4 linked regions of the Homo sapiens genome follow. The protein of the gene in region 1 purifies or fractionates together with the protein of each later gene. This does not show direct contact. Each region holds a gene or a part of one and is shown in the gene's direction. Other genes may lie near its edges.

Evidence for each region.
Region 2: the proteins of DEFA5 (region 1) and HTRA1 purify together in Homo sapiens (co-immunoprecipitation; 3 studies listed by BioGRID and IntAct, with this or other methods). This does not show direct contact.
Region 3: the proteins of DEFA5 (region 1) and PLXNA1 purify together in Homo sapiens (co-immunoprecipitation; 3 studies listed by BioGRID and IntAct, with this or other methods). This does not show direct contact.
Region 4: the proteins of DEFA5 (region 1) and PLXNB2 purify together in Homo sapiens (co-immunoprecipitation; 3 studies listed by BioGRID and IntAct, with this or other methods). This does not show direct contact.

Annotation. Positions count from the first base shown.
Region 1 is NC_000008.11:7,054,567-7,061,112, reverse strand, and holds DEFA5 (defensin alpha 5 preproprotein), read left to right. Parts: upstream 1-4,373; 5' UTR 4,374-4,415; coding exon 4,416-4,587; intron 4,588-5,569; coding exon 5,570-5,682; 3' UTR 5,683-5,809; downstream 5,810-6,546. UniProt on the Homo sapiens protein: Host-defense peptide that maintains sterility in the urogenital system.
Region 2 is NC_000010.11:122,456,380-122,464,716, forward strand, and holds the start of HTRA1 (serine protease HTRA1 precursor), read left to right. Parts: upstream 1-5,173; 5' UTR 5,174-5,273; coding exon 5,274-5,745; intron 5,746-8,337. Other genes in the region: ARMS2 (age-related maculopathy susceptibility protein 2), read left to right, coding at 528-554. UniProt on the Homo sapiens protein: Serine protease with a variety of targets, including extracellular matrix proteins such as fibronectin. HTRA1-generated fibronectin fragments further induce synovial cells to up-regulate MMP1 and MMP3 production.
Region 3 is NC_000003.12:126,978,426-126,986,130, forward strand, and holds the start of PLXNA1 (plexin-A1 precursor), read left to right. Parts: upstream 1-4,689; 5' UTR 4,690-4,862; intron 4,863-7,705. UniProt on the Homo sapiens protein: Coreceptor for SEMA3A, SEMA3C, SEMA3F and SEMA6D. Necessary for signaling by class 3 semaphorins and subsequent remodeling of the cytoskeleton. Plays a role in axon guidance, invasive growth and cell migration.
Region 4 is NC_000022.11:50,297,516-50,304,860, reverse strand, and holds part of PLXNB2 (plexin-B2 isoform 3 precursor), read left to right. Parts: intron 1-1,039; exon of another isoform or gene 1,040-1,382; intron 1,383-3,191; exon of another isoform or gene 3,192-3,398; coding exon of another isoform or gene 3,399-3,514; intron 3,515-4,349; exon of another isoform or gene 4,350-4,363; intron 4,364-4,525; exon of another isoform or gene 4,526-4,735; intron 4,736-7,345.

The DNA of each region.
Region 1 (6,546 bases):
TAATGAGAAACTTGACTGGCAACAGAGTTGTGTCTAAGGCTGAGCAATGGGCTGCCGGTGAGGGCCTGGTCCTGGGAAGATGGGCCACCGGGCATCTTCTGGCTTGGCCAGTGCTCAGCTCTGCCTCTCACACCACAGGGCCTGGACAGTGGTTTTTAAACCACCCATTTATCTTTCCAGATTTTCTGCTCACCCAATTAATTTTGGGGTCAGAGAAGGATGAAGAGAGACTGAAGATATCAATTTCTCCAAATAATAAGGACTCTGGGTGATCAAACACATGAGAGAATTCATGGAGAAAGGTTAGAACTGGAACAAAAATGTCCCAAATTGTTTCTTCAGTCATTGCTAGAGATTCAGAGAGACAATGCCAGAGAGACGGAGGCTAGGAAACAATTGTGGAACGCTATCTACAAACTTAGCAATGTCCAGTGAGAAATAGAGAAGCAGTACAAATACAGATGGTTTAAAACCTGGTGCTAAATGGCCACCAGGGCAAAACAAGGGCCATGAAACCTGGAATCACTGATGCAGGAAATTAGTCCCTCCCAGGCTCCCTGTTAATTCACGAATTCAAATAAATATTATAGATATTACAGATTTAATTCAGATCCTCTCATTTTCATAAGGCAGAATAAGTGGGAGATAAACTCTATCAGTTTCTCTGCAAAGAAAGAAAAAACTGAAACACATATCAAACACCCCAACCTCTCCACTGTATTCTAAAGGTCTGGCTTCTCTCCCACTCTCTCAAGGCAATAGCATGACTTGACACTTTCTAATTTTGTAGGAGTCACTAAGAATAAAGACAGGAGTTTGGACTGGCACAAAGGTTTAGAAGCCCACACAATCTCATTTATAATAGCACTCAAAAATAAAATTCTTAGAAGTAATTTTAACCAAAAAAGTGAAAGATCTGTACACTGAAAACTATAAATATTGATGAATAAAACTGAAGAAGACACAAATGAATGGAAAGATATCTTGAGTTCATGGATTGGAAGAATTAATATTATTAAAATGTCTACACTACCCAAAGTGATCTGTAGATCCCCATCAAAATTCCAATGCAATTTTTCACAGGAATTAAAAAAATACTAAAATTGGCATGAAATCAGAAATGACCCCGAATAGCCAAAGCAATCTTGAGCAAAAATAACAAAGATAGCGGCATCATGCTCTCTCATTTTAAAATGTATCATAAAGTTATTGGAAGCAAAACAGCATGGTCTGGTGTAAAAGCAGACACAATAACCAAAGGAAAGGAGTAGAAAGCCCAAAACTATACCCAGGGCTTTATGATTACTTGATCTTCAACAAAGATGCCAAGAACACACAATGGGGAAAGGACAGTCTTTTCACTAAAAGGTGTAAGGAAAACTAGATATCCACAAGCAGAAGAATGAAATTGGACACTTATCCCACACTATACACAAAACTCAACTCAAAATGGATTAAAGACTTACATAAAAGACCCGAAATTGTAAATCTACTAGAAGAAAACATGGAGGGAAATCTTTATGACATTTTTCTGGGCAATTATTTCTACAACAGGACTCCAAAAGCAAAGACAACAAAATCAAAAATAGACCAAGGAGGTTACATCAACTAAAAAACTTCTGCACAGAAAGGAAACAAAAAGATGATCCAGGGACTAGGAGAAAGTGTTTGCAAACCATATATCTGATAAGGGGCTAATATCCCAAAGATATAAGGAATTCAAACACTCAATAAGACGAAAACAAACATCTCAATTTAAAAAAGGGCAATAAACCTGGCCCACAGATATATGAAAAACACACTCGACATCACTAATTATCAGGGAAATGCAAATTAAAATCATAAAGAGGTAATCATCTGTTAGAATGGCTTTTAACAAGTAGACAAATAATACGTGTTGGTGAGGATATAAAAAAAAGGGGACCCTTGTAGGCCATTGGTGGAAATGTAAATTAGTGCAGCCATTTTGGAAAATAGTATGGCGGTTCCTCAAAGCACTGAACATAGAATTACCATATGACCCAGCAATCCCACTTCTGGGTATATCTCCCAAGAAATTGAAATCACTGTATCAAAGAAGAATCTGCACTCCCATGTCCATTTCAGCATTATTCAAAATAAGCAAGATATGGAATTAGCCTAAATGTTCATCAGTGGATGAATGAATAAAGAAAATATGGTATACATGCAAGATGGTATACCATATAGCCTTAAAAAAGAAGGAAATTGGCAGGGCGCGGTGGCTCACTCCTGTAATCCCAGCACTTTGGGTGGCCCAGGCGGGCGGATCACGAGGTCAGGAAATCGAGATCATCCTCGCTAACACAGTAAAACACCGTCTCTACTAAAAATACAAAAAAATTAGCCGAGCATGGTGGCGGGCGACTGTACTCCCAGCTACTCAGGAGGCTGAGGCAGGAGAAAGGCGTGAACCTGGGAGGCGGAGGTTGCAGTGAGCCGGGATCGCACCACTGCACTCCAGCCTGGGCGACAGCAAGACTCCGTCTCAAAAAAAAAAAAAAAAAAAAAAAAGAAGGAAATTCTTCATTCATGACAACATGGATGGAACCAAAGGACAATGTGCTAAACGAAATAAACCAGACACAGGAAGACAAATACTATATGATATCACTTACACATGGAATGTTAAAATGTCAGTTTTATGGAACTAGAGTACAAAGGTGGTCATCAGAAGCTGCAGGTGGGTGAGATAGGAAAAGAGAAGATGTTGAGCCAAGAGTACAAAGTTTCAGTTATGCTGGAGAGTCTTAGTGATCTATGGCACTGCACGGTGACCACAGTTAATAGTGATGTATTGTATCTTTCAAACTGCTAAAGGAATCAATTTGTAATTCTCCTTAAAAAATTAAGTTGGTGAGGTGATGGCTATCTTAATTAGCTTATGTGTTTCTCCCATGTGGATATCAATCCAAACGTCACATCATACCCTACAAATATACAGAAAATTATTTTTCAATGAATAAATAAATAAATTTGAAAAAAATTAAATGAGGAATTCAAATATAGAGACTCTCCAAGGGCCCACTGAGCCCCAAAGGATTTGGATCAAATATGGTGATATTATGGAAATATGTAGTAATATCTTAAAAATGTGTAAGATATAGTCTCTTTTTTTTTTTTTAAGAGAAAGGGGTCTCACTATGTTTTTAGGCTGGTATCGAACTCCTGGTCTCCAGTGATCCTCCCACCTCAGCCTCTCAAATAGCTAGAAATATAGGCATGTACCACCATGCTGGCTTAAGATGCATTCTTTGACACAGCAATTCTATTTCTATAAGTTTATCCATATAGGTAAGAGAACATATATACAAGATAATCACTGTAACTTTACTTATTACTGCAAAAGTTTAAAAATAACCAAATTGTAATAATTTTATAATATTTTATCAGTACAAAAAATAAGTGATGGCATATACAAACCCTGGGATAGTATAAGGCTATTAAAATTATAATAGCATTCCATGTATTTTGATATACAAAGTGCCAATGTTACAGGTGAAAAAAGCGAAGTGCAGAATACTATGTGTAACTGTTAATAGTGATGGTTTGCTGGGTCAGAACTGAAGGCCTGGGGGTAGAAATGAGAGCTCATGACTTCTACCTTTTGAATGTTGTTCCTTGTGCATGATTTACAATTTTCTAAAACTAAAAAAAAAATCTCAGAAAGGGGCTGTACGCACCTAAATTACTTTGATATTCCCCAAAGTGGAGAGAAGTACCCGCTACACATTTTATGTGATGCATTCAGATCACACCAACTCCTTGAACTAAATCCGAATTTTTATTTTAATCTGATAAACTTGGCCTACTATTTTACTGAACTCATTTCCCCTATAGCCTGATAAGGTCATTGACCTCTCCATACTGGCACCAGCGGGAGACTACTCACCTCGAGATCTCAAAAGCCTCCTACATGAGGTTAGTAATATCCCTGAATCCTGCAATGAATTAACTCTCTACTCCACTGAGTCCCAGGTCTGCCCCCAGAGAGTCATCCAGAGAGTACCAGGGACCATCTTCAGAAAACAAGAGGCATTTGATCCCCAAACTTCTTGAATGAAAGCGCTGTTGTTTTTCTTTTTTGAATATATAAAAGTAAATACTCAAGCAGATGGGAAACAGAACAGGATAGTAATACCCTTATCATCATTAACACCTTGGATCAAGAAGAGGCATTAAGCATACAGACTCACGCTTTGATGAAAGCTGGGAGAAAGAGGAGCATCAAAGGGATCTTGAGAACAAAGGCAGTCCTTCCCCTCCCAATCACATGCCCACCTCCTCTCACTGCAGCTTCTGTCTCAGGTCTTCTCCCAGCAGAGCTATAAATCCAGGCTGACTCCTCACTCCCCACATATCCACTCCTGCTCTCCCTCCTGCAGGTGACCCCAGCCATGAGGACCATCGCCATCCTTGCTGCCATTCTCCTGGTGGCCCTGCAGGCCCAGGCTGAGTCACTCCAGGAAAGAGCTGATGAGGCTACAACCCAGAAGCAGTCTGGGGAAGACAACCAGGACCTTGCTATCTCCTTTGCAGGAAATGGACTCTCTGCTCTTAGAACCTCAGGTAGGAGACATCAATCTTGCACATCTGCAAAATCTAGAAAAAAAGGATTGGAGAAAGGATCTGGAGTCAAGTGTGGAAAGGTCTACCTCACTTGAGTGACTTTACTTAATCTTCCTGGACCTTGATTTTCTCATCTATAAATTAATCAGTGAGAACCAAATAAATCTAAAAGATTTTCTTTTTTCTAAGACTTTCAGTTCCAAGATATTTCTGTGAAATTTGCTACTTTTAAGATAGAAAGAGCTACACTGACTAGTTCTTTGTAGATCTAAATGGGCAGACTTAGTTATATAGAGAGTGTTTTACTTTGTCCATTGGAAAAGCTTTTAGAACCTAGAGAGGAACCTATAGGTGTGTTTTGATGTAGGCTAATAGGCTTGATTAAATCTTTCTACAATACATCCTTAGATCAAAACATCATATTGTGTCTCATACATATACACAATTATTGTTTGTCAATTAAAACAAGTAAATATGTAAAATGTTAAAAAAAAAAAAAAAAAAAAAAAAAGGAGAGACAGAGAATGAAGAATTTGAATTTGGAAAGTCTTCAAAGACTCCTTGAGCACCAAAGTATTTGGTCCATGACATTAGCATGCACAATGCGGCATTTCAGAAACTGATTCAGGTGCTTTAGGGAGCCTTGTTAGGACCTGGAAATCACACATGGAGGTCAAGATTAGGCGTGTGGATGAAGCAGAATGAAGAGTAGGTAACCCTGAGGTTGAGAGGTATATTGTTGGACCAGGGAGCAGGTAATAAATACATCCTGGATAGACTCACATGGGGAAAAAAACTATGATCTTGCATGACTAACACATAGCTAGTAAGATTTCTTGTCACTTACGACAAAGACATGAATTTTCTCCATCCTAACATGACTGATACAGTGTCTCTTATTTAGACTATCTCAGTTAGTCTGGCTGTGCTTGTCCTTTTTCCCACCTCCCTCGCTGTGCCTGACCCTCTCTTCTTTCCACAGGTTCTCAGGCAAGAGCCACCTGCTATTGCCGAACCGGCCGTTGTGCTACCCGTGAGTCCCTCTCCGGGGTGTGTGAAATCAGTGGCCGCCTCTACAGACTCTGCTGTCGCTGAGCTTCCTAGATAGAAACCAAAGCAGTGCAAGATTCAGTTCAAGGTCCTGAAAAAAGAAAAACATTTTACTCTGTGTACCTTGTGTCTTTCTAAATTTCTCTCTCCAAAATAAAGTTCAAGCATTAAACTTAGTGTGTTTGACCTTTTTAATTTTCTTTTCTTTTTCCTTTTTTTTCTTTTGCTTTGTTATATGGTGGTTTGTATGGTTCCTTTGTATTGAGAATTCTGATCTACATTAAGTTAACTGGTCTTTGCATTCCAATGATGCACAATTTGAGCATCATAGAGCAATAACAAAATAACAAAAATGAATATAATTGGGTTTTTTATTGTTGTTGTTTGAGACAGTGTCTAACTTAGCCACCCAAGCTGGAGTACAGCGGTGCAATCTCGGCTCACTGCAGCCTTGACCTCCTGTGCTCAAATGATCCTCCCACCTCAGCCTCTTGAGTAGCTGGGACTACAGGCATGTGCCACCACACCCTACTAATGGTTTGTATTTTTTTGTAGAGACAGGGTTTCACCATATTGCCCAGGTTGGTCTCGAACCCCTGAGCTTAAGTGATCTGCTCTCCTCAGCCCCCCAAAGTGCTAGGATTACATGCTTGAGCCACCATTCCTGACAGGATATAAGTGTTAATTGGAATAGTTTGAAACTTAAAAATTCAATGCATTCCTAATGATACTCAAAAAGTAGAAGTTTACAATGAGAGGCAAAAAGTGGTTGTTGGCTCAAAGGAAAGATAGATCTAATGGGCTATGTTTACTTGTCCTTTAATTTTAAAAAGTGGGAAAGCATTGCTATACATAATTTTTGAAATTTTAAGCAGATGTGTTAAATATATACACTTTACATTAAGCTTT
Region 2 (8,337 bases), on another chromosome or scaffold:
GCATGGTGGCTCATGGCTGTATACCAGCACTTTGGGAGGCCAAGGTGGGCAAATCACTTGCAGTCAGGAGTTTGAGACCAGCCTGGTCAACATGGTGAAACCCCATCTCTACTAAAAATACAGAAATTAGCCAGGCATGGTGGCAGCACCTGTAATCCCAGCTACTTGGGAGGCTGAGGCAGGAGAATCGCTAGAACCTGGGAGGTGGAGGTTGCAGTGAGCCAAGACCGCACCACTGCACTCCAGCCTGGGCAACAGAGTGAGACTCTATCTCAAAAAAAAAAAAAAAAAGTTCTCAAAAGTATTTTGAACTTCCTCACCTTTGTCCTATTTTGGAAGGAGGGGGTCTACATTGAAGAGATCATACAGAAATAAATTAATTGTTACAAAAGGAATGGAATGTCTATACTTCTTACCCTATTGAGTTACATTAACTGCATCTTCAACTTAATTTAAAGTGCTCCTCAACCTAAAATATCGTCATGTGTCTTTAAAAATGCATATTACTAAATCTATTTTTTTTTCAGTCTATCATCCACACTGCAGCAAGGTGATTCTGCCAAAACATATCTCCTTAAAAGCCAACTGGAGCTTCTCATCAGCATCAATGTGAAGCCAAAAATCCTTAGGAGGACAGAGGGAGTCCCTCACAACCTAGACTGGTCCCCTTCCCTCCAGCTGCCTCAACTGTCCACAGGACTCTCTTCCCACCTGCGGCCACACTGTGCAACCTGGAATTTCCCCACCTGGGCGGACTCATCACGTCATCACCAATTGGATGCATCTTCTGCTCTGTGCAGCTGGTGAAATCTTTCTCAACCCTTGAGATGCAGCCCAATCTTCTCCTAACATCTGGATTCCTCTCTGTCACTGCATTCCCTCCTGTCATCCTGCCTTTGTTTTCTTGCCCTCCTTTCTCTCCCGGGTGATAGGCATTAACTAAAATTAAATAAAAATTCAGATCATCCTTGCACTTGCTGCATTTCAAATGCTTGGCAGTCACATGTAGTTAGTGGCTACCCTCTTGGACAGCACAGATAGAGATTATTTCCATCACTGCAGAAAATTCTAGACTTTGAGCTTCTTGAGGACAGGGGCTTGATCATTCGACACTGCTTTACAGTGTCTAGCAGTGTCTACCCTGTGGCAGGGGCTCAGGAAATTTTTCCTGAACCGAACCTAACTGAACTGATGTGGGTTTGTCATCAGGGTGTACCTGCTGTTAAAGGAGGTTACGACCTCTGATGCTGGGGTGGCCAGAGGGGATGGGAGTGGGTCTGGCACTCTGAGGAAAGGGGGTGAAACCAGCTGAGAAGTCATCTTTTACCTGCTGGCATGGCCCCAGCCAGGGTTCTGTTGCTATGGGAGAATGGGTGAGTAGGGATGGATTACACCACCCTGGATCTAGAGGACAACCTGGCTTGAGGGGCATGGGGGACGCTGGAAGTCAGGGTAAGAAGCTTGGACTTCATTCTACTGGCATGGAGAGCCCCTGGAAACTACTGAGCAGTAGAGGGATAGGCTAAGCTTATAGGAGGAGCCAAAATTATTACTGTAGCTCCTTAGATCTTAGATCCTGTGACTTAGGAAAGGCAATAGGAGCCCCTGAGCATTCTGGGTCCTTTGTACATTTGGGAGAACAGAGGCCCGGAGTGGGAAATCGTCCTCCTGGGCAGCACAAACATGGCTGCTCCATTCCTATTCAGAAGCCTCGTTTCCTGATTAAGGCTCTGGCATCTGTGGTGTTTCATTGTTCATTATTCATGAATAGACTTGGCCCTGTTCAAAACTAAAGCTTCAATGCTGCAAATGAGGGCTGCAGAGAGGATGTTGGGGAACTCGTCTGTTTGGCTTCAAAACTGCCCCCTTTCCTCTGGAAAAATCCTCTCTAGAATACCGTGCCAAGGCCTGGTGAGTGAGAAATGAGTTTTCATGATGTATCAAAAGAAAAATGCTTCTTTTAAGAAAACGTCTTTATAAATGGCAGCAGATGGGGAAGAATCTAAAAGAAAGAGCAACGCTTGCAGGTTGAAAGCATTACCTCCAGATATGGAGACGTTAGGACTAAGGGAAGGTCAGAGATGGGCCCACGAGGCCAGGTTTCAATGGACTTACCATTTCCTTCTTCGTGCATCCACTGATGGACACACGTAGGCACACGCACCAACAGCCTCCCATGTGGACAGTCCAGGGTGCCCAGAACCCTTCCAGCAAGACTTTGATTTCTGTTTCGAAGGATTTCTTGAGGCCCCTCTGTAGAGCTGCTTGTCTTCTTCATAACCGGTGCCTGGGTCAGAGCAGGTGGGGTGAGCTGCACTCACAGCTGGGAGGTGAGTCTGTGATCTCATTGTGCAGTGGCCCTGCCAGGTTGCTCTTTCTAAAACCTTGGGTATTGCAAATTCTGCTTCTTAGGGACCGCTTGGTCCCCCAGTCCTCCCCCTGCTGACTCCCTTCCTGATGAAGCCACCAGCATGGCTCTCAGGGTAGTGCTGTCTTCCTTCTCTAGAACAGCCACGTGGCCCCAGGGCTGGCACTTACTGGTCACCGTGGTTACAGACGCCTCTTCTAGGCTGTGAACTGTCACAGGAGTGGGTCCACTTCGGCCGACACTTCCTCAGGGGTATTAAGTAGCTGGGGGTCCCCCTGAGTCTCCATCACCCTCTTACCCATTCTCCACCCCCTCCCCCACCACACATACACTCTACTCCCCCAGTGCTGAATAACTTGCCAAAGCACTGTGCTGGCACTGGGGCATGGTAAAGAAGACGGGGCCTCTGCCCTAGGGAGGAGGTGATGAGGGCAGGAATAGCAGCACAGAGGGTGAGAGGCAGAGACAATGGCACTGAGTGGGGGCACGAGGATGGAAGAGGAGCATGCTAGATGGGACGATGGGACCCAGCACTGACCAAATAGAAGCTTGTGGGTGGCACATCAGTCACTCCAGGGACATATGTGGTCACTGCCATTTTCCTAATGAAACTCCTCCAGTTATTAAACAAAGGCCCAGAGTCACAGACTTAAGGACCAGAAGTGGGATTTGAACCCAAGTCCCCCAGATGACAGGGCTCCCACGTGCTTCTCTAGGTCACATGAGCCCACGCTGGAGGGGAGGAGGGGTGTTTCAAGAAGAGGGGAGATGTGGGCAAAGAAAGGCACAGAGACCGTAAGCAGACAGGTGTGTTCCAGAAAATGCAAGTTATTTGGCACTGGGGGAGCAGAATGTATATGTGGTGGGGGAGGGGTGGAAAATGGGTGAGAGGGTGGTGGAGACTCAGTGGGATCCCCAGCTACTTAATTCCCCAACAGGGAAAGAGCCTAGAAACTCCCTCCACCTCCCGCAAAGCAGTGGGGAAGTTGCGGCCACACTGTTTTCGGTCCGCTCATTCCCTCTGCAGTCTGGCTGCTCAGGGGGATGGAGGAGGATGGGGCTTGCAGGCAGGCACAGCCGGTTTGGAAGGTGTCCTGGCTCCAGCACTCAACTTGTGGCATGACACTCAGGGGAGTCACCCTTTCTGGCCCTCAGTTTTCTCCTCTGTAAAATAAGGAAATTCGACAAAAATAAGTTATCACCAATTTATTCACCACCACGTGTCCTTTTAATTCCATCTGCCCCAGGACTGCAGTGGGGAGTCTTTCTTTGCCGATGGACTTCGAAAATCATCACCCCCCGCATTTTTTGTGGTTAACCACAGCTAGCCAGGAACTCAGGGCTTCTCATCAGCAGAGGCCTCTGCCTCTCCAGTATCCAGGGCCGAATGGATTTTGGGTCAAGGCCTCCCTCCCGCAGCCAGGAGGCCCTGGCTTTATGGAATATCGCTTGGAGTCCAGGGAGTCAGCATGGGGACCCCGACAGCTTTCCCATGCCCCAGGCTCCTGGGCCTTTCTGGGGGACCCCTCTGGACCTTGGGCATTAACAAGGTTCATATTTGGAAGGTGCTTTGAGGGGGCTTATAGGTATTTGGAGTTTACTTTTTAAACTATTTGTATTGGAAAAATAACGTGTGCACAAGGGAACAACCCAAATACAGAAGAATATTAAAATCCCCAAGCCCCCAGCCCCCTCCCATGCTACTCTATCCCAAAGTCAGCTCTGCCGGCTCACCCAACCCTGGGTGCCTCTGCCCAGGGTGGGGGTGGAGGTTTGAGGGTTCGGGATGAGGGCTGGACGAAGGGCCTCCTCTCAGGTCCTTGGACACGAGCTGTGCCCATCTGCTCAGTGTGGACCCAGGACTACTGCCCACAGGCCTGGTGCTGCCTGGGCACCCAGACCCACCTCCAGGGTCGCCCTCAGCCCTCCTGATGACTCTCGGACTCGCATCTGTCCCAACGGATGCACCAAAGATTCTCCAGTGGGAAATCAAATTTTTGATAACAAGTGTTTTGAAATAATCACGCACTTGGTGAAAAATCAAAAGAGGGGAAAACCCCTTTCCCATCTGAGACCGCTCCACCCTCGCCAGTTACGAGCTGCCGAGCCGCTTCCTAGGCTCTCTGCGAATACGGACACGCATGCCACCCACAACAACTTTTTAAAAGAATCAGACGTGTGAAGGATTCTATTCGAATTACTTCTGCTCTCTGCTTTTATCACTTCACTGTGGGTCTGGGCGCGGGCTTTCTGCCAGCTCCGCGGACGCTGCCTTCGTCCGGCCGCAGAGGCCCCGCGGTCAGGGTCCCGCGTGCGGGGTACCGGGGGCAGAACCAGCGCGTGACCGGGGTCCGCGGTGCCGCAACGCCCCGGGTCTGCGCAGAGGCCCCTGCAGTCCCTGCCCGGCCCAGTCCGAGCTTCCCGGGCGGGCCCCCAGTCCGGCGATTTGCAGGAACTTTCCCCGGCGCTCCCACGCGAAGCCGCCGCAGGGCCCCCTTGCAAAGTTCCATTAGTTTGAAGGACGCGAATCTCAGCGAGAGAACCTGCGGAAAGCGAATATGTGGGGCGCGCAGACGGGGAAACTGAGTCCCGCGAGAGGGCCGGCCTGTGCGCTGCCCCGCCCGCGCCCCGCCAGCACCGCCGTGCCCGGGCGCGCCCGCCCTGCCCCCTCCGCGGGCGGTCCCGGTCCAGCCGCCCGCCCTCCCTCCCGCCATCCGGCCAGCCCCCATCCCGGGCGCCGTGCCCGTCCCCAAGGCGGCTCGTCACCGCTGCGAGGCCAATGGGCTGGGCCGCGCGGCCGCGCGCACTCGCACCCGCTGCCCCCGAGGCCCTCCTGCACTCTCCCCGGCGCCGCTCTCCGGCCCTCGCCCTGTCCGCCGCCACCGCCGCCGCCGCCAGAGTCGCCATGCAGATCCCGCGCGCCGCTCTTCTCCCGCTGCTGCTGCTGCTGCTGGCGGCGCCCGCCTCGGCGCAGCTGTCCCGGGCCGGCCGCTCGGCGCCTTTGGCCGCCGGGTGCCCAGACCGCTGCGAGCCGGCGCGCTGCCCGCCGCAGCCGGAGCACTGCGAGGGCGGCCGGGCCCGGGACGCGTGCGGCTGCTGCGAGGTGTGCGGCGCGCCCGAGGGCGCCGCGTGCGGCCTGCAGGAGGGCCCGTGCGGCGAGGGGCTGCAGTGCGTGGTGCCCTTCGGGGTGCCAGCCTCGGCCACGGTGCGGCGGCGCGCGCAGGCCGGCCTCTGTGTGTGCGCCAGCAGCGAGCCGGTGTGCGGCAGCGACGCCAACACCTACGCCAACCTGTGCCAGCTGCGCGCCGCCAGCCGCCGCTCCGAGAGGCTGCACCGGCCGCCGGTCATCGTCCTGCAGCGCGGAGCCTGCGGCCAAGGTACTCCGCCGCGCTCCTGGGCAGCTCCCCACTCTCTCCATCCCAGCTCGGACCTGCTTCTGCGGGACTGGTGGGCAGGTTGAGGGGCAGCGAAGCGTTGTGGGGTGGCCAGGGCAACTCTCGGGGACAGGCAGGTGGGCCCCGGGGTGGCGGATTTCCGCGGGCTGCCTCGGAACCGAGCTTCGCGCCCAGCCCGGGGCCGGTTCTGCGCCCAGACGATGCCAGTACGCCCGGCCTGCACTCTGGGGCTCGAGACGCCGGGCGACCGGCCATGGAGTGCCCTGAGGGCAACCACACAGCGCGGGGACCCCAGGACAAATAAGAGGAATGGGGGCATAAAGGAAGGAGAGAAGTTCAGGACTGGGAATTGGCGCCTCGCAGAGCGGCTTCAGGACCACAAGAAGTCATTTCGGTTGCTTTTTCTTCTATTTACGTCCTCCGTCCCCTTTAAAATTCACTGCTTTGATCACGGGACCGCTCAGTGAAAACTGTATGTAACTCTTTTGGAAAGGAACAGTGTTTGCCGGCCCGCCCCGGAGTTTCTCCAAAAAGTCTACCCCGAGCAGGGAACGGTTTGGCACCGCTCTCGTTTCGGCGGCGTTGCTGCCTGTCTTGCTTTCCTCGTTTTGAGCCAGCCCTACAAAAATGAAAGTGGCTCCTTTTGAATAAGCTGAATCGGGCTTTGGATCACGAAATCTGCAGAGGCGGAGAAGGGACCGGGTTAGTGATGAGGAAGAAGTCTACCCCTCTGTTCCTACAGCCGCACACAGGACCTGTTCTGGCAGGGGAGACGGTGGTGATGGGGGAAGGAGTGGAATGGAGCAATGTCTAACTCTCTCGCGGGACCTTCCGGAGAGATGCTCCTCATCTTCAGGCAGAGGCCATGTGGAAAAATAATATCGAGTTCAGCAGCGGCCAGCCCCGCGTTGTAGGAACCAGACAGCGGGGCTTGGCAGTGCGCTTGGGCGCAGCCGTGCCGCTGCTGCCGGACCCCAGTGCTGCCTCCTCAACACGGGCAGTGCCAGGAGAGGGGCATAGGGGAGCACAGTGCAGAGGGACTGGTCTAGAGTTTACTTTATAGGAATATGGTTCGGTGTGACCAACTAGGGCTTAGCATAGTTTGGCTTACGTGGACGGGAAGATGCCAGAGCCGAACTGGGTGAAATTCGAGATTGCGTATTTCACCAACACAGGAGCACAGCCCTCGGGAAACTCAGCCTAGTCAGGCAGTAGAGAGTTGTCCCGGAGAGAAGTGATCCTGCAGACTCGAGAAGGGGCATGATGATAGCACACGTCTGTTGAGCACCCAGTCTGTGTGCCGGGTGTGTTACCTCTGTGACCTCATTTGGTCAAACGAGGAGGCAGTTGCTCCTCTCTCTCTCTTTTTTTTTCTTAAGAGACAGGGTCTCCCTCTGTCGCCCATGCTGGAGTGTAGTGGTGTGATCATGGCTCACTGCAGCCTCCGACCCCTGGGCTCAATGATTCTCCTGCTTCAGCCTCCCAAGTGGCTGGGACTACAGGCGGATGCCACCACACCCAGCTTCTCATTCCCGTTTTACAGATAGCGGAGCTAAGGTTGAAAAACTTGCCCAAGGTCATTCAGCTGGAATTTAAACCCAGACAGCCTCATTCAGAGGAGTCAGCCCAGCACTTAACTCCAAGGGTGTGGGAGAGGGGTCAGGTGCTGTAAATTTCCTGGTGGGCTGGACGTGCATCCCCCTCAGAGCTGGGAACAGCATACACAAAGCCTAAGACTTGTTTGGAGGTGAATAGATCAGTGTGGCTGGGGAACGTTTTGGGAGGGCAGCAGGAGTGAGCCAGGCTGGTGGCCCAGAGTCCCAGGGCTGAAGAGGCTGGCTGTGCCCCGTGCCCTGTGCGCAGATGTTCTTGAACTGGAGCAACTCAAAGCCTAGTGTAGTGTAGGGCTGACCTAGCAGTGGAGTGCGGAATGCATCCAGGGTGGAGAGTTTAGACTACTGCAATAATCTGGGTGTGAGGCGACAACATTGAAAAAGCATGTTTTTGTCCAAAACAAGCCAGCTGTTACTGGTCTCGCTGTTTGTGGTCTCATCGCACGGGGTCCTGAGTTGCTGGCACCATGCGAGCCGCCTAATTTATTGCTAGTGAGGCAAGTTGCTTAACAAGTTTTGGAGTTGGCTGAGTCCCTGTGTGGAGGAAAACAGGTCCCCCATTGGCCATCGGGCTCACAGCGGGCCCCCGGTGTACCAGTGAGGGGACAGCCACAGAGGGATAAGCATGGTGGCTTTGAAAGGAGGGAGAGACAGAGTGGGTACAATGCTTTTCTTATCCCTCCCTCCTTCTTTTGCAAATATTTATTGAGCTCTGTAGGGTGTCTGACACCGTTTGCATGTTTGTCTGTCTGGCACATCGGAGGTACTTGGTACGAGTGGATTAGTGAATGAATAAATGAATGAATGAAGACAAACGGGAGGTGCTTGCGATACACAGCCATTCTGTTTTTCCTTAGTGGAAGGCACTGCTTTGCTGCGCCCCCTCTCTGGATCTCACACTCCACCCTTGACTTTTCGGAGGTGTTTCCGAGGACAGGCGCCTGGGAGCCAGCAGACTTCA
Region 3 (7,705 bases), on another chromosome or scaffold:
AGTGTGCCTGTGTGTATCTGCTTGCATGTGTGTGCTAGCGTGTGTATGTGTGCTTGCATGTGTGAGTGGATGTGCATGTGTGTGCTTGCATGTGTGTGTGCTTGCATGTGTGTGTGTGCTTGCATGTTTGAGTATATGCATGCGTGTGCCTGTGTGTGCATGTGTGCTTGCATGCGTGTTTGCACTTGTGTGTGTGTTTGCATGAGTGTATGTGTGTGTTTGTATGTTTGAGTGTGTGTGTGCGTATGTGTGCACATGTGTGGAGGCATTTCATGTGTTAAAAGATGCCACTAGAGGGTCTGAGCAGAGGGGTCTCCCCAGCTGTCTATTAGATCCCTGTGGACCACAGTGTGGAGAGCAGAGTTGGGAGGACTGCGCTGGCAACTAAGGGTCCCCATGTCCTCCAGGCAGGAGGTGACAGAAGCAGGGGAAGTGAGACAAGGATGGGTTAGGAATATTTGGCAGTGGTGGTGCCAGTTCCAAAGTGGGCTCAGGCAGGAATCCAGATGCCCCCCCAACCAGCTTTGAACCCAGTGACCAGGGATCTGAGGGCCATTCCCCAGAGCTGGGGGTGCCTGGATCCTCCCCATCTCCTTCCTCACCCAGTAGCAGTGGGGCTGCCTCAAGGGGAAGGAGATCCCAAGTATACTTTTGCAGAAAGCTCTGACTCGTACAAATGCAGAACAGTCCCCAGAGCTGCCCCAGGGGCAGGAGCATGGGAAAGCACCAAAAGAAGCTCCTCTCCAGACCCCCCTGAAATGGAACCATGTTCCTAGGAATCTCCTGCACTACTCTACAAACTCCCCAGCCCTCTGAGCTGCCGAAGGCAAACAGAAGCTAAACCAACATGGGAAACCCAGAGGGAAGAGCCCAGCAGCCTGCTGAGTCACTTCCCCTCTATTTGATGTGGGGTCAGGAGCCCCAAAGTCACAGACCCCGGCTCCAACCCCAGCTCCTCCAAGGTTGCTCACCTCCAACTTCTCTGTCTGCATTTGGGGTGCTGCAGTCCCTCCTCAGAGGGCAGTGTCAGGACCCAGTGTGGTCACACCAGGAGCTCAGAGCTAAACAGAGGGCAGCTGCTGCCGGGGCCAGACAAGAGCCGCAGGGGCTCTAGAGCCTGCCTCACACAGCCCATCCATAGCAAGAGGCACTTGCCTCTGTCCCCACAAACTGCCTGTGCAGTCTTCTCCCCACCTTCCTGTGGCGGCACAGCCTTTTCCTTATTGACTCTTGGGAGTTCTTTATATATTCAGGATACACATCCTTTGACAATTAGATGTGTTATAAGCCATCTCTTTCTAGATCCTGACTTGTCTCATTATTTCATTATTTATAACTTTTAATGAGCAAAAGTAACTAATTTTAATGTAGTCAAATTGACTCATATTTTCCTTTCTTTATTTTTTTAGTATCTTGTTTATGAAATCCTCCCCTAGCCCAGGGACAGGAAGCGAATCTGCTCTCTGGTCTCCTAAAAACCTTAGAATTTTCTGTGTGGCGCTGAGACCTAGGCCACCTGGAATCCACAGTTGCTCATGATGGGAGAAGGAATTCCAGGGCATAATGAGAGGGTCACATGAGCAGATTCTCACTGTGATGGCTTTTGCTGCTGCTGTCTGGGGACTGGACAGAAAGGTGTTACCAAGTACAGCAGGCAGAGCAGAGAGGAGGTGCTCCTTCCTGAGGAGCCCAGAGTGGGGATGGAGGGAAGTGGAAAGTTCTGGAATATATTTTTGGGAAGAATCCACCAGGCTGAGGGATGCAGGGGACATGGGGAGCATGGAGGTTCCCAGTAGGGCAACCTGGGGGATGTGGCATGTTTCGCAGAGATGGGGAAAATGAGGGAGGCACCTGGTTAACCAGGAGCTTGGTCCTGGACACGTAGACTCCAGCGGCCCTGGACCTTCCCAAGACGCAGCTGGAGACAGGGGGCTCTACCACAGAGGAGAGGCCTAGGCTCTCCTGGGCACCGTGAGTACAGAGCAGGAAGCTCCTTGAGGAGTGTCTGCCTTGGGGCAAAAGGGCGGGAACAGGCAGACAGCAGGGACAGCCCCTGGTGCTGGTGACAGGTGGCGCAGACAAGAGCTGGTGAACATTCCCCGAGGTCAGCCATGGTGTCCACACTCACTGTGTCCCTCACCACAGCTCTGCAAGCTCTCACGTCCATTTCACAGATGAGGAAATCGAGGCTCGGAGAGCAGTCAGGACTTGCTCTGCCTTCACCAGCCATGAGGATGGATTTGCGCCCACACGTGTGCCTCGGTAGTCCGTGAGGAAAGAAAGCGCTCCAGTCTTGTTTGCCAGGGAAGGGAGGGGAAGTACAGCCCAGTGGCTGGGTCAAGACCACAGACTGGAGAAGCCAGACTCCTGGGATTAGCCTCCCAGCCCGGCCTCCTATCCACTGGGGAACTTGAGCACGTCTCCAGCCTCAGCCCACCCATCTGTAGAAGGTAGCAGAGCCAGCACTGTATTAGTGCTTGGGAAATAAAATAATAAATATAACTTTTGAGGAAGATGTTCTGCCTCATTCAGGGACATGTAAGTTAAAACCACAATGAGGCTGGGCATGGTGGCTCACACCTGTAATCCCAGCACTTTGGGAGGCCGAGGCGGGCAGATCACTTGAGGTCAGGAGTTTGAGACCGGCCTTGCCAACATGGCAAAACAAAAATTAGCTGGGCATGGTGGCACACGCCTGTAATGCCAGCTACTCGGGAAGCTGAGGTGGGAGGATCACTGGAACCCAGGAGGTGGAGGTTGCAGTGAGCTGAGATCGAGCCACTGCACTCCAGCCTGGGCGACACAGTAAGACTCAATGAGGCTGGGTGCCGTGTCTCATGCCTTTAATCACAACACTTTGAGAGGCTGTGGTGGGAGCATCACTTGAACCCAGGAGTTTGAGACCAGCTTGGGTAACATAGAGACCTCATCTCTTGAAAAAAAAAAATTAGCCAGGCATGGTGGTGCCCATCTGTAGTCCCAGCTACTCAGGAGGCTGAGGCAGGAGGATGGTTTGAGCCTAGGAGCTTGAGGTTACAGTGAGCTCTGATTGCACCACAACATCCCAGCTTGGGTGACAGAGCGAGACCCTGTCTGTCTCTAAAAAAAAAAAGCAGACAAGCAAAACCACCTAGTTGAAAAACCAGTTCATGCCACTAGATTTGCAAAACTAAAGAGTGCCAAATATTGGTGAGGATGTGGGACAGCCAGACCCTTCCACACTCCTGCTAAGCTGCTGGGAGTGTAAACTGGGGCTGTCACTTGGGAAGACGGTTTTGCTGTATCTCCTGAAGCTAGACAAATCCTACCCCGTGACCCTGCAGACCGTCCCTGGATCTAAAGGTGCCCACCGAGAGGCACACACAGGATGCTCATCACAGCTTTGCTCATCATGGCTCCAGATAGGCGACAATCCCATGTCCATCGGCAGGAGAATGGGCGAGCAGGAGCCCAACAAAACAGGCTGCGAAGACGATGCCTGCGAGCAGCTGCCCTGTGCCCTCACCACACAGAGCAGACAGAGCAAACAGCACAGGCTGAGTGACCCCGTTTCTGTAATGCCCAGAACAAGCCACCCAAAACAGCGTCCCATTCTGGGGTGCAAATATAAGAGGTCACACCCAAAGAAAAGCACTTAAAGATGAACACAAAAATGAGGGTTGTGGCTGCTCCTGGGGAGGGAGGAGCGGGGTGAGACGCGGAGGGACACCTGGGCCCGGTATGAGTCCATTCCCTTTCCCTGTTAACCATGTGAACTGTAGAGAGTTCCTCTTCTGTAGGGGTGACGTGATTCACACAGCAAAAACCGCACCCCTCAGGCTACAGATGGGGGCCAAGTCCCCAGCCGGGACTCAGCCCTCCCACGACGGGGTTTTCCTGGCCCATCTGCTCTGTTATCGATGCTCCTGTTGCCGGCTTCCCCTTCCTTGGCCTGGTTGCGTCCACCGGGAGGCCCTCCCGGATGCCTCCTGCCTGGGAGTGGCGGTTGTGAGTACAGTAACTGAGTGCTGGGTGTCTGCCCCTCAGCCTTGCCATGCAGGCTGGGGGTATTGCCTGGACAGCTCTGGCCCGTCACCCTGGATTCTGCAGCCCCACACCTCACACCGTGTAGATCCGCTGCCCCACGCTACAGCCGGAGTTCGCGTCTCGCCACGCCTCTGCCGCGGGACTTTCCTCCCTGGGCTGCGTCCCCAGCCGGGAATGCGCCACCAGCCTGGGGCCTGCAGGGGGCGCCCGGGCTCCCCGCGCAGGTGCCCGCCCATCTGACAGAGCGGAACGCGCGAGGCCGAGAGCTGGGAACACCCGGCCCCGCAAGGTCTGGGAACTGCGATTGCCTCCTTCAGCCTCAGTTTCCCCCCCCGTGAAAGGAGGCCATGCTCCTAGCCTGGGCACACTGAGCCAGGCCCTGTTCCTGGGGTCGCGGGCTAGCCCGCTCGAGAGCGGGGGGCTCCCGGAACTGCCCGCGCGGCCCCGGCGCCCAGAGAGTTGAGGCGGGCAGCCGTATCGCCCTTTGAAGACGCGCGGTGGGCCCCTGCAGGCGCGCGGCGCGGGGCAGAGCGCCCTCTGGAGGCCGCCGCCGGCCCCGCCCCCGCCCCGCCCCCGGGCTCTGGGCGGCGCATGCGCGCGGCGCGGGGCTCCGCGGGCGGCGAGAGCGAGGCCGGTCCGCAGCCGCGCGGCGCTCGGCGCCCCATTCATGCTGGGCATCGGCTGCGCGGCCACGCAGCGGAGCCCGGGCGCGGCGGCGGCCTCGGCCTGGGCGGCCTACGCGGCTTCGGCGGCCCCGCGGCGGGGCGGACGGCGGCGGCGGCGCGGGCGGCTGGGCGCGGCGATGGCCGGCGGCGGGGCGCGCCCCGGGGCGGCGGGTGAGTCGGGGCGCAACTTTCCCCGCGGCGCGGGACGGTGGGCGGGGGCCGGGCCGGGCTGGGGTCCGGGGCCGGGCGGCCCGTGGGTGGGCGCGGGGCGGCCTCCGGCGGCGGCCCTCTCGTGAGGCGGCAGGCAGGGGGTGTGCGCGGGGACTGCGGCGCGCGTGGGGACTGCGGCGCGCGTGTCCGCGGCCCGCGTGTCCCTGCGGCTCCGGCCCAGGCGTCCGCGTGTGTCCGGGCGCGGTCGCGGCGCCGACGCGGAGAGACCGCACCCCCGTGCGGCGGGGCTGGGACCGCGGCCCGGGATCCAGCGCCGCGGCCTCCCCCGCCCCCCGGCCGGGCCCGCCGAGCCCCGCGGCAGCTCCGGGGTGGCGGGGGGCGGGCGCTGCCCCTCCACGGAGGCTGGGGAGAAAGTTTGCGGCGGCCCCGCGGGGAGGCCCCTGCGGTGTCCAGGCCCGTCCCGGCCGCTGGACCTCGGCTCAGACCTCTGGCCGCGGGCGAGGACGGGGTGGCCAGGCCCGGATAGGGATCGGAGCCTCCCAGCAGGGCCGCGGGGGCCGGAGGAGGTCGTGCAGGCTAAGCCCCCGGCCGGCCCTGGGGCGCGGGGTGGAAGTTGGAGCGGCTTCCCGACCACAGCTGCCACCGCTCCCACTGGCCCGGAGTGCGGGGAGGTGGGCTCTGGGTGCCGCCCAGGAGGCCGCCCCGCTCGGGCCTCCTTGGCCTCCCCCTCTCGGGGCCTCTCCAGGGTCAGCCGCTTCTCCCGGAGGCTTCCGATTGCTTCCTGGATAGTCCCGGGCCTGATGTGCGGCGAAGCTGGAGGCAGCGGGCCGATCCCGGGCTGCCAGGGGAAGGGGGAGTGGGGACTCCAGGGAGGCCCCTCGGTCGGCGTGAGGTCCCAGGTGCAGCCCTGGAAAGGAGGGGAGGGGCTCCGAGGGGCGGCCCCGGGCGGCGATCTGCCCCAGGCTCCTGTGTGGGGTTCTGGGGCCACGCCCCTTGAAAGAAAGGGGTGTGTGTGCCGGGGAGGGGACGTGGTCGAGCCTCTGTCCCCTCAGCGCGGCTCCTGTGGCTCAGGCTGCTCCGTGCTGCCCCATCTCCTTTCACACGTAGCCGGTTTGGGGGTCGGTGCAGGGATGGGGCGCAGTTTCTGCTCCCCGGGCCCTTGAGGAGCTTGCCTCAGGTCCCCTCGATTTCCTGCGGCTTGGGGTGTGCGGCAGAGGCCAGGTGCTGCACCAGGGGCACCAAGATGCTGCCCGGCCCTTGAGGAGCACCCAGCCCCCTGCCAGAGGCAGGCATGTGAACCAGTGATTCGCTGCAGGGCCAGGCTTCCATTCCTGGGGGGTGCCAGTGGGGCCCAGGAAGGGCGTTTTGGGCAGAGGACAGCATGGGCGGAGGCCTGGGTTTGTGGCCTCAGTGTGTGCTCTGGGGGTGGGGGACACATGAGGTGCCTGTGGACAAAGCAGACAGCCCTTTGCTGGACTCCTGGCCCCCCAAGGTCGTTGCCTGCCTGTTTTGAGCCCCCAGGAAAGCCCCCGTGCACAGAGCAGCTTAGAGCAGCTGGCCGGGAGGAGCGGGTGCCCCAGGGGAAGGCCTGCAAAGGTAGGCACTTTTTCTCAGGAGCAGGACTCCAAGGCCTTCAGAGCCGGATCCCCTAGGACTGGTCGGGAGCAGAACCACTGGGACCACCTCCCATGACCCCCGTTGTGGGGGAGGCGGAGTGCCAGGAGCAGCTGTCTTCCCCCCCGGCTGCTGTTGTGAGCCACTGGGCAGGATGGCAGCCCCACACCCCAACCTGCCTGAGCCATAGCAGGATCTGGCGCAGGAGGACTTGGGGGGATTGGACTCTTCCTTGTGGGGAGGGCTTTGGGGGCCTTTGTTTCTCAGGGTGAGAAGGAGCTTTGGTGTCACTCAGGCCAGGAAAGGGAAGGGGACACTGTTGGCTTGGCGTTCCACCAGGCGGCGATCCCCTCCTGTCCAGGAGAGGAGCCCCTGGGCTGGGGCTCCTGCACGCAGACCGCGGGGTCTCTCTCCGCCTCTCTCTCCCTGGCTAGCCCCATCGGCATCCCAAGGCCAGTCTAGCCTCCCCTGCCCTGGCTCTGGCTCTGCCTCAGCCTAGAACAGCTCTGGCCATGCCGGAGAGCCACAGCCGTTCCTACTGCCCTCTGCACAGCCAGTGTTTCCCACCCCAGGCCTTTGCTCCTCCTGTTCTGCCCCCCACCCCCACCACGAATGCCCACCCTCCTGCACCAGCTCCCAGGCTACCTGGTCCTCTCTTGAGGCCTTTCCCCGGCCACAGTGGCCAGCTCTGCTCCTCGGTAGAGTGCAGCATCTGCCCATGCTCCCCTCCTAGCCCCGGCATGGGCCCCTGGCACCCTGGCACCTGGGCCCAGCTTTGGAATGAATGCATTTTTTCCTAGGCAGACCCAAGCCTATGAGAGTTGAGCCCTGCAGGCTGGCTGGCTGGTCCAGTCTCTGGAAGCTCGAAATTTGGGCCCTGCCCTGCTGGGACTAGTTGGGTGACCTTGAGTCTGAGCCCCAAGTCTTATACCCCTAAGGTGGAAGAAGTGGCCCAAGCATTGTCACTGGCCTTTATTAGATGCTGGGCATGAGGGACCCAGCCCTAGGCTCGGGGCTCCCCCTTTCTTGGCCGGCAACCCTGTGACCCCAGGCAAGTCCCTTCCCAGCAGACTTTGTTGGGGCAGTGGGGTGAGGGTGGAGTTTGGGGCGGTGGGCCCAAGACCAGGCTGGAGTTTGGATGGTGGCTTCTTAGCCTGGTCCCTCCTGTTGAATACAAAAAGTAGGGCCCATAATTGCATTAAGACGTGTATAATTATCCCAGAGGAGGG
Region 4 (7,345 bases), on another chromosome or scaffold:
GGCCCCCCAGCCTTGACCTCCCTTCTCTGAGGCAGATCCAGGTTCTCTGGGGGTGGGAGATTCAGTAGGGCTGGGACTGGCCACAGCCCCTCCCTCCCTCAGGGGTAGTGGCTGTTTGTGTTTGGGGTGGGGCTGTGGGTGGGGTGGGGCTGGGTCTCTGACTAATTACACGATGGGGAGGGTGGGTCAGAGCCTTGGCTGGTGGGGGGTGCTCAGGCTCTGGGGCCCCGGGGAGGCAGCTGCCCTAGCTTCCCTCTTTCTGGTCGAGGTTCCTCCACCTTCTTCCTTTCCGTGGTTTCACATCCCTTGACACAGGGCCTGCTTCTTCCCATACCCCTGGATTGTAAGGACCCCTGCCTTTCTCTGCCTACCAGGGAAGGACCCTGCACTGTTCTGGGCTCCCCCAGCCACAGGTGTGGCCTCAAGCCAGGCCCTGACACAGTGGCCCTCCTGGCTCAGAAGCCTTCTCTCTGAAGACCAAGCGTGTGAAGGGATTGGCTGGGCCCCTCCCGTCTGGCCCTGAACACTGGCACCCCGCACCCCCCCAGTGGATCCACCCTGCCCTGTGAGATTCATGAACCTGTGACAGTGACTGGCCCCAGGCCCAGTGGTGCCGGGGATGGTGGGACAGGCTGCCCCTGGTGGTACTGCAGGTTTGCCCCACCCCCGGGGATGTCTGTCTGGGGAGGAGCCTGGGGCTGGCCTGGCTGTGGAGCTGGGGGTTCTGTTTCGCACAGTCCCGCCTCTGCAGCCCAGATCCTGGAGCCCTTCACACCCAGAGGCCAGCCCACACCGTGGCCCGCTATGGTTGGTGGCCTTCCCTGGGGGTAGCCCCTAAGGCCACACCTGAGCTGCCTCATGTCCCAGGCTAGGTGAGGGAGGAGACTGCCCTGGGCTGGGATCAGGGCGCCTGGGGGCAGGTCCAGCTCTCTTCCTCAGCCCCCTAAGGTCTCCTGGCTTCTGAAAGCCAATAGTTCCTCATTCCAGTGCCAGCTGAGTCCCGGCCCAGGCCTGGGGCAGGAGAGGGAGGTGCTGCCCCAGTTCAGCCACCAGCTCTGCCAGCAGGGTCCCAGCAGCAGCAGCATCAGAGGCAGGGACTGGGCTCCTGGGGGTAGGGCCCCGGCCCCTCTGGCACAGCTGGTCAGCAGCTTCCATGGGGGGCCCTGTGTGGAGACACAGTGTCCAGCACCGATTTCTGGGCCTGATGCTGCCCCAGCTGAGTCCCGCAGCAAGCGCAAGAGAGAGAAGTGCTTGGTGTCCACCTCTGAGAAGGCCTCCTGTGTGAACACGGCCCCCTGAGGGGCCAGGCAAGGGCGTCTGCTCCTGTGGCTGGGACGGTTCCTGCCCACGAGCCTTGTGTAGGGCTGCGGCTCTCTTCCCAGGTGACCTTCTGTTGTGGTCTGGGGCCCCCGAGCCAGCATGCCACCTGCTCAGAGACAGATTGGGCCCCCTGTCAGATTGGCGTCTGGGGGCACTGTCTGCTCCTTCCAGGCAGCTTTGAGGACTTCTCAGAGGAGGAACCCCCCTGCCCTGCTGGTCCAAAGTGGGGTGCTGAAGGCCGAGGCAGTTTCCAGGGGGCTATGCCTCAGGCTGCGTGGGTGGCTGTGGTAGGAGCGTGCTCTGTGATTGTCACTGCATTTGCCTGGGGTCCATGCTCTGTCCTCAGCTGGGGTCTGGCTTTGAACCTAGGTGAGTTCTGGGGCTCTGAGGACAGGCCAGAAGCAGGAGTGTGGGGGGGTCTCTCCTGGGGGAAGCAAGGGAGGCCTGGGCCTGTGTGACTCAGACGTGGTAGGGTGGCATGGGAGCCACAGCTTGGGGGGATGGCGGGGGGCTTGAGGGTAATCCAAGTATTTCAGGGACCCAGCCATGGAGAGTGGGGTTTGAGGACCAGCAGGAGGTGAGGACTCTGTGGATCCCAGCCCTGTCAGGTGTGTTTTCAGAGCTGGGGCCTGCTTTGGAGGAGATGGAGGGCACAGAACACTGCTGAGCCCAGGCCCTGTGCCCAGCCTTGCTCCAGCCTTACCGGCTTGACACCAGGGCCTCCCTCCCACCAGCGAGGGGGAGAAGCTATTTTAAGTGGAGCCAGCAGTTGACAGGGGCAAGGGGCAGGTGGTGGGAGGGAGGTGCTCCAGCATGGCCCCCCCCACTCCCTCTCAGCCTCAGAGATTGGCCAGGGGAGCTGAGGGGCTTGGCCTCCCCACTCCTATGTTGGCACCGAGCCTGATCTGGTGACCACCCTGAGGGACTTCAGGAGAAAAGGATGTTAGGGAGGAGGGCGTGAAGGTGGGGCGCCCCAGGCAGGCCGCCCAGGCCCAGCAAAGCTCGCTGGAGGGTCCCCCAGTTCCACATCTAGACCTGGGGCCCAGTGGCTCTCGACCAGGCCCTGTGGGGTTTGAAGTCCTCAGCTCCACCATGAGCAGAGCAAGCCTCCGCGTGGAGCAAGGGGCTGGACCTGGCCTCCAGGGGCACCCACCTCCCCACACAGCTCCAGCCACGGGCATCACCTCCCACTCACTGTCCTGCCCCCACTCTGAGATGGGCATTTCCTCACTGGGAAATCCCTGTCCCTCTGGCCTCCCAAAGCCCTGAGTGTTTGCCCCTGTGGGGCCCAGCCCACACCCTGGGCTGCCTCACCCTTGGCCTGGACCCAGGTCCTGCCCAACACCCTGTGCCTCACCAGCCCCCAGCTCATCCTGGGCAGACGCAGCCCCTCTCCCCTGCTGAGACGGCCCTGCCCCCACCCCACTTCCCCATGCCACACATGGCCCCTCCCTCGGGGCTCCAGGCAGCGCTGGGTTCTGAGAGCCCCACTGCCCCTCTTAGCCCAAGTGCCCCGGCCTGAGGCTTCTCTCCCAGGCTCTTTGTACTGGGGACGAGTTCTGGGTGTTGGGGTGAGACCCTGTTGGCAGGGCTTTTCCGGCAGCACCCAGCCATGTGTGTCTGCACATGTGTGGTCATGTGTGCAAGTGGTGTCTGGCACACAGGCTTGGCGCGGTGCCCCAAGCTAATTGTGGGGTTCAGCGGTGATGGGCGAGGCGGGGCTGGGGTGACCGCTGAGGCGCTGACAGGCTGACGGGGAGATTACAGGCCTTGCTTACTGCTCACTGGCTGGGGCCTCACCCGTCCACCCCCCAACGCCCACCCCGGGGGTGAGAAGGGGGCTGTGGGCGGGGGCTGGTCTTGAGCCAGCTGCATCCAGGCAGGACCTGGTCTCTGAGCAGCCGGCTGCTGCGGGGTTGAGCTGGAAAGGGGGAGATGCGTGGGGGCCACTCAGAGGAGAGCCTGCAGGTGGGGCTGGGCACCGGCGGGCCGGGAGGCCTCCTTTCAGGAGAGACTCCAAGTGACTGAGCCCCAGAATCCCACGAGAGTCCCTCCGTGGCCGCCTGCTGTCTGACCGCATGTCCTGTCCTGATGAGTTGGTGGTTCCTGCTGTAGCCATCGGCCTCGTGTGCCCCGAGCGCCTGGCGGTGCCCACCCCTCCCACAGGAGGTCCTCAGGAAGCACGGAGACATCGGTAGGTTCATTGCGCTGCCCAGCTTTCTGACCCGAAGGACCACGGTGTAGCAAGAGGGGGCTGCAGCTGTGCCCAGGTTGGACAGGATGGGGTCTGGGACCCCGAAAGGGGTGGTTGAGGAGAGAGGTGGTTCTGCAGGCCTGGTGCGTGTGGGGACAGGGCGCCGTAGCCAACTGGATCCCACCTTCTGTCTGAGGGCTGGGGAGGACCATCCTCCAGATGCGCCAGTGGGCCGTGGCCAGAGAGGAGGCTGAGGAGGGCCTCACAACTGTGTGTAGGATGGGAGGGCAGCCTGGGGCCCCAGTCTAGGGACGCACCATATACAGGGGCTGCACTTGGTGCAGAGGCGGAGAGGGGGCTGGGGCAGGCCCCTTGGGCATGGCCAGGTGAGCTCAGGGGGTGCCTGAGGGCCAGGGCTAGATACAGAGGCCCTGGGTACCAGGTGGCCTGGGTGTGTCAGGAGGTGTGGACCAGTGGGGGCTGTGACTAACTCGGCTGGAGCAAGTGACAGGAGGAGCTGGGGCTTCATGGGGCACCCCCAGGATCCTGGGCTGGTGACCCCATCACTGCCACCAGCCAGGGTGACTTTTCCTGCTGGGACCCAGAGCCCAGACTGCAGGGGAGGCTGGCCCTAAGTAGGAACCCCACCCTGAAACCAGGCTGGCGGGGAAGGGGTGCGACGGCCTCCACCTGGGAGGGGTCCTCAGCCGAGAGTCCAGCGGGGACCGCTGTAGACGCTGAAGCGAGGCTCAGGCCTCCACATCAGTCTGTCCCTGGAGCCCCGCCCCGCCCCGCCCCGCCCCAGCTCCTAGGTCGGGTTGTGCCGGGAGCGTTCGGCCTTTGCCTCGGGTGAGTCTGGCCTTGACCCTGGGTCCGGAGTCCTGCGGGAGGCTGCTCCGGGCAGGGTCGTGCATGATTGGCAGCTGGGCCGGGAGGGGCCGAGCCCTGAGACCGACCGGGGGCACGGGCGGAGCCACCATCGGCGGGGCGGAGCTGCTCCCCGCGCCCCTTCCACGGCTCGGAGGACTTAGGTAATGGCCGGCTGTGCGATCCGATGTGCCCGACGCCAGGTGAGCGCCCCGCGGGGACGACGTCTCCTGCGCTCGTGTGACTGTCGCCGCCGCCGTCATTGTTACTCGGGTCAGACTCCCACCCGCCCGCGCGTCCTGGGCCCCCGGCCTGGTGAGGTTTGTCCCAGAGGCGGCCACGTGCTCCCTCCAGGTGCGCGAGGCCGAGGGGCGGACGGGGCGCCGGAGTCCCCGGGAGGGCGCGGGCGGTGGCCGTGGAGCTTGGGCTCGCGGGGGGCAGTGGGCGGCGCCGAGGAGGCGCGGGCCTAGTCCCTGCGCTTCCTGGCCCCGGGCGCGCTTTGCCCCTGGCTCCCGGGCAACCGTTCTGCGCCCTCCGGGGAGTCTGGCGGTGCCGGCGCCGGGGGAGGGGCTGTGCCACCTGGGTCGGCCTGCGAGGAATAGTCCAGGGCGCTCCACACAGGCCGGGTGCCCGCCTTTGGCTCTGGCCGGGTACCGGGCTCGCAGACCCACCCAGGAGACACCGCCCCCCGCCTCCCGGGCTGAACTCTGACCCGGGTCACCGGTGGGTGGGGCTGGGTGGCGGGGCCGCCGGTCTCGCCCTCGCCGGGTCTCCCGCGCGCTCTCCACCCAGTCCCTCCCCGCGCCTACCCACGGGCGCGGCGCTGCGGGAAGGGGCGGCCGGGGTCCTTGCCGACCCCCCAGCCCCACGCCCCGCGGCACCCCCCTCGCGCTTGTTTTGAAAACAGCGGAGGCTGGGATTCGCCGGCGCGTCTGTTTTGTTTCCTCTGATGTGTTTAGCGCTCTGGGATAATTGCAGATTTGCGTGTGTCGCTAGCTTTGGCCCGGCCCCCTGGCTGCTGGCTGCGGGGCCTCCGGGGCCTCCGTGGCTTTTCTGTGACGCCTGTCGCCCCGTTCCGGGACAGCCACTCTCAGACGCGCCTTGGCCTGTGCTTGGGGCAGCCTATCGCTCACTTGGTCCGAGGCTGCTTCCCCCGCCCCCGCACCGGGCCCCCCCCCCACCCCACGCAGGGCCTGTGTCCACCCCAATCCTTTGAGCCCTGGAGGGCCGCACAGCCCTAGGACCTCTGCCTTCTCCACCGCCCATGTCCTAGGTGCTCATGCCACCCCCTCCTGCCCTCCCAGGCCTAGGCCCGAGCTCTCCTCGTTCTTCATGGCGGCTGCTGCCTGGATCCCCATCTTGGCCCCTGCCGGGCCGCTGCCCATGCACCTCCTCTGGCCCCTGCCCTCTCTGGTTCCCGTGCCAGAGCCCACAGCCTGGCCTGGCCAAGAGCAGCCCCCAAGCTGGGCCTGCCCTCCCACTGGGCCTGACTGCTTTGTGCTGGTTTGATTTTAGCATTAAGAATGGTCAGTCTGGCTGGGTGTGGTGGCTCACGCCTGTAATTCCAGCACTTTGGGAGGCCAAGGCGGGTGGATTGCCTGAGCTCAGGAGTTCGAAACCGGTCTGGGCAACACGGTGAAGCCCCATCTCTACTGAAATACAGAAAATTAGCTGGGCATAGTGGCGTGCACCTGTAGTCCCAGCTACTGGAGAGGCTGAGGCAGGATAATTGCTTCAACCTGGGAGGCAGGGGTTGCAGTGAGCCAAGATCATGCCCCTACACTCCAGCCTGGGTGACAGAGTGAGACCTGTCTCAGAAAAAAGAAAAGAATGGCCCAGTCTGTTTGCTTGAAAATACTGAAAGGCAGAGAACTCCCAATTTTAGTCCCCACTGGAACCACCCCGCAGTGCAGCCAAGACTTGGGGCGGTCTCAGAACCAAGGCTGGCAGGAGTTTGGGGGCCTGGCAGCCCCCACTCTTGGCCTCATCTGGAGTAGGGCTCTGTCCTTCCCCCTTACATGCCTCTTGTTTACCTTTACCCAGTGGGAGGGGCGGGGGCCAGACTCAGCCCGTGCAAGGGGCCTGGGGGCTGCTGGTCAGAAAAAAAAAACAAAAGGGACCTCAGGAGAGGGCCACAGGTGCCCAGCCAGCAAGCAGCTCCTGCTGCCTCCCAGGCTGTCTAGGTTGTAGAGGGGAGGCCCAGCATCCCTGTGCTGCCCTTGGCCTACATCGGAGTTCTGGTTGGGGGAGGAGACCCTTCTGCTCTGTTGGCCTGGGGGTGACCTGCGGGGACAGGTCTTCTGGGCTCGCGCCCCTGCATGTCACCACCCCTTCCCGGCTCACTGAGTTTGGACCGGCAGGTGCCCAGTGACCAGATCCAGTGTTTGGACTTGTTGGGGCAGGGCGGCGGGGCAGCCGGGGCCTGTCGGGGAAGACCATAGACCACAGAGCAAGGCCAGTCCCTCAGGGGCTGGGTTAGGGAGGGTGTCTCGGGGTCTAAAGGATGGGCAGGGGCTTTCCAGGGAGCACAGTGAACATGGACGTGGGAATGTCGTGAGGCAGCGTTCTCTGAGTGGGCACAGCTGTAAAGATTTCCACACCCACTCAACCTCAAGGCAGCCCTCTGAGGTGGGCGCCATAATGACCCCCAGGTTACATATGGGGAAACTGAGGCACAGAGCAGCTTTCTGAATGGCCCACATGAGCCAGCTAGAACGTGACAGAGCTGGGGTGTGAACTCACTGGTCTGGCTCTGGACTTCAGGCCTCGAGGTCCCTGGGTGCAGCAGCGTCAGGTGTGACCACAGCCACCTAAGGAAGAAACTCCTTTTTCTGGGGTAGCTAAGCGGGAATCTTGTGAGCAGGAGATGGAGCCTGGCTCAGTGTTGAGGGCAAGATGGATGGAGGTGGGAGAAGCCAGAGGCCGGGCAGAGGAGGTAGACTTGGGCCAGGAAGGGCCCCAGAC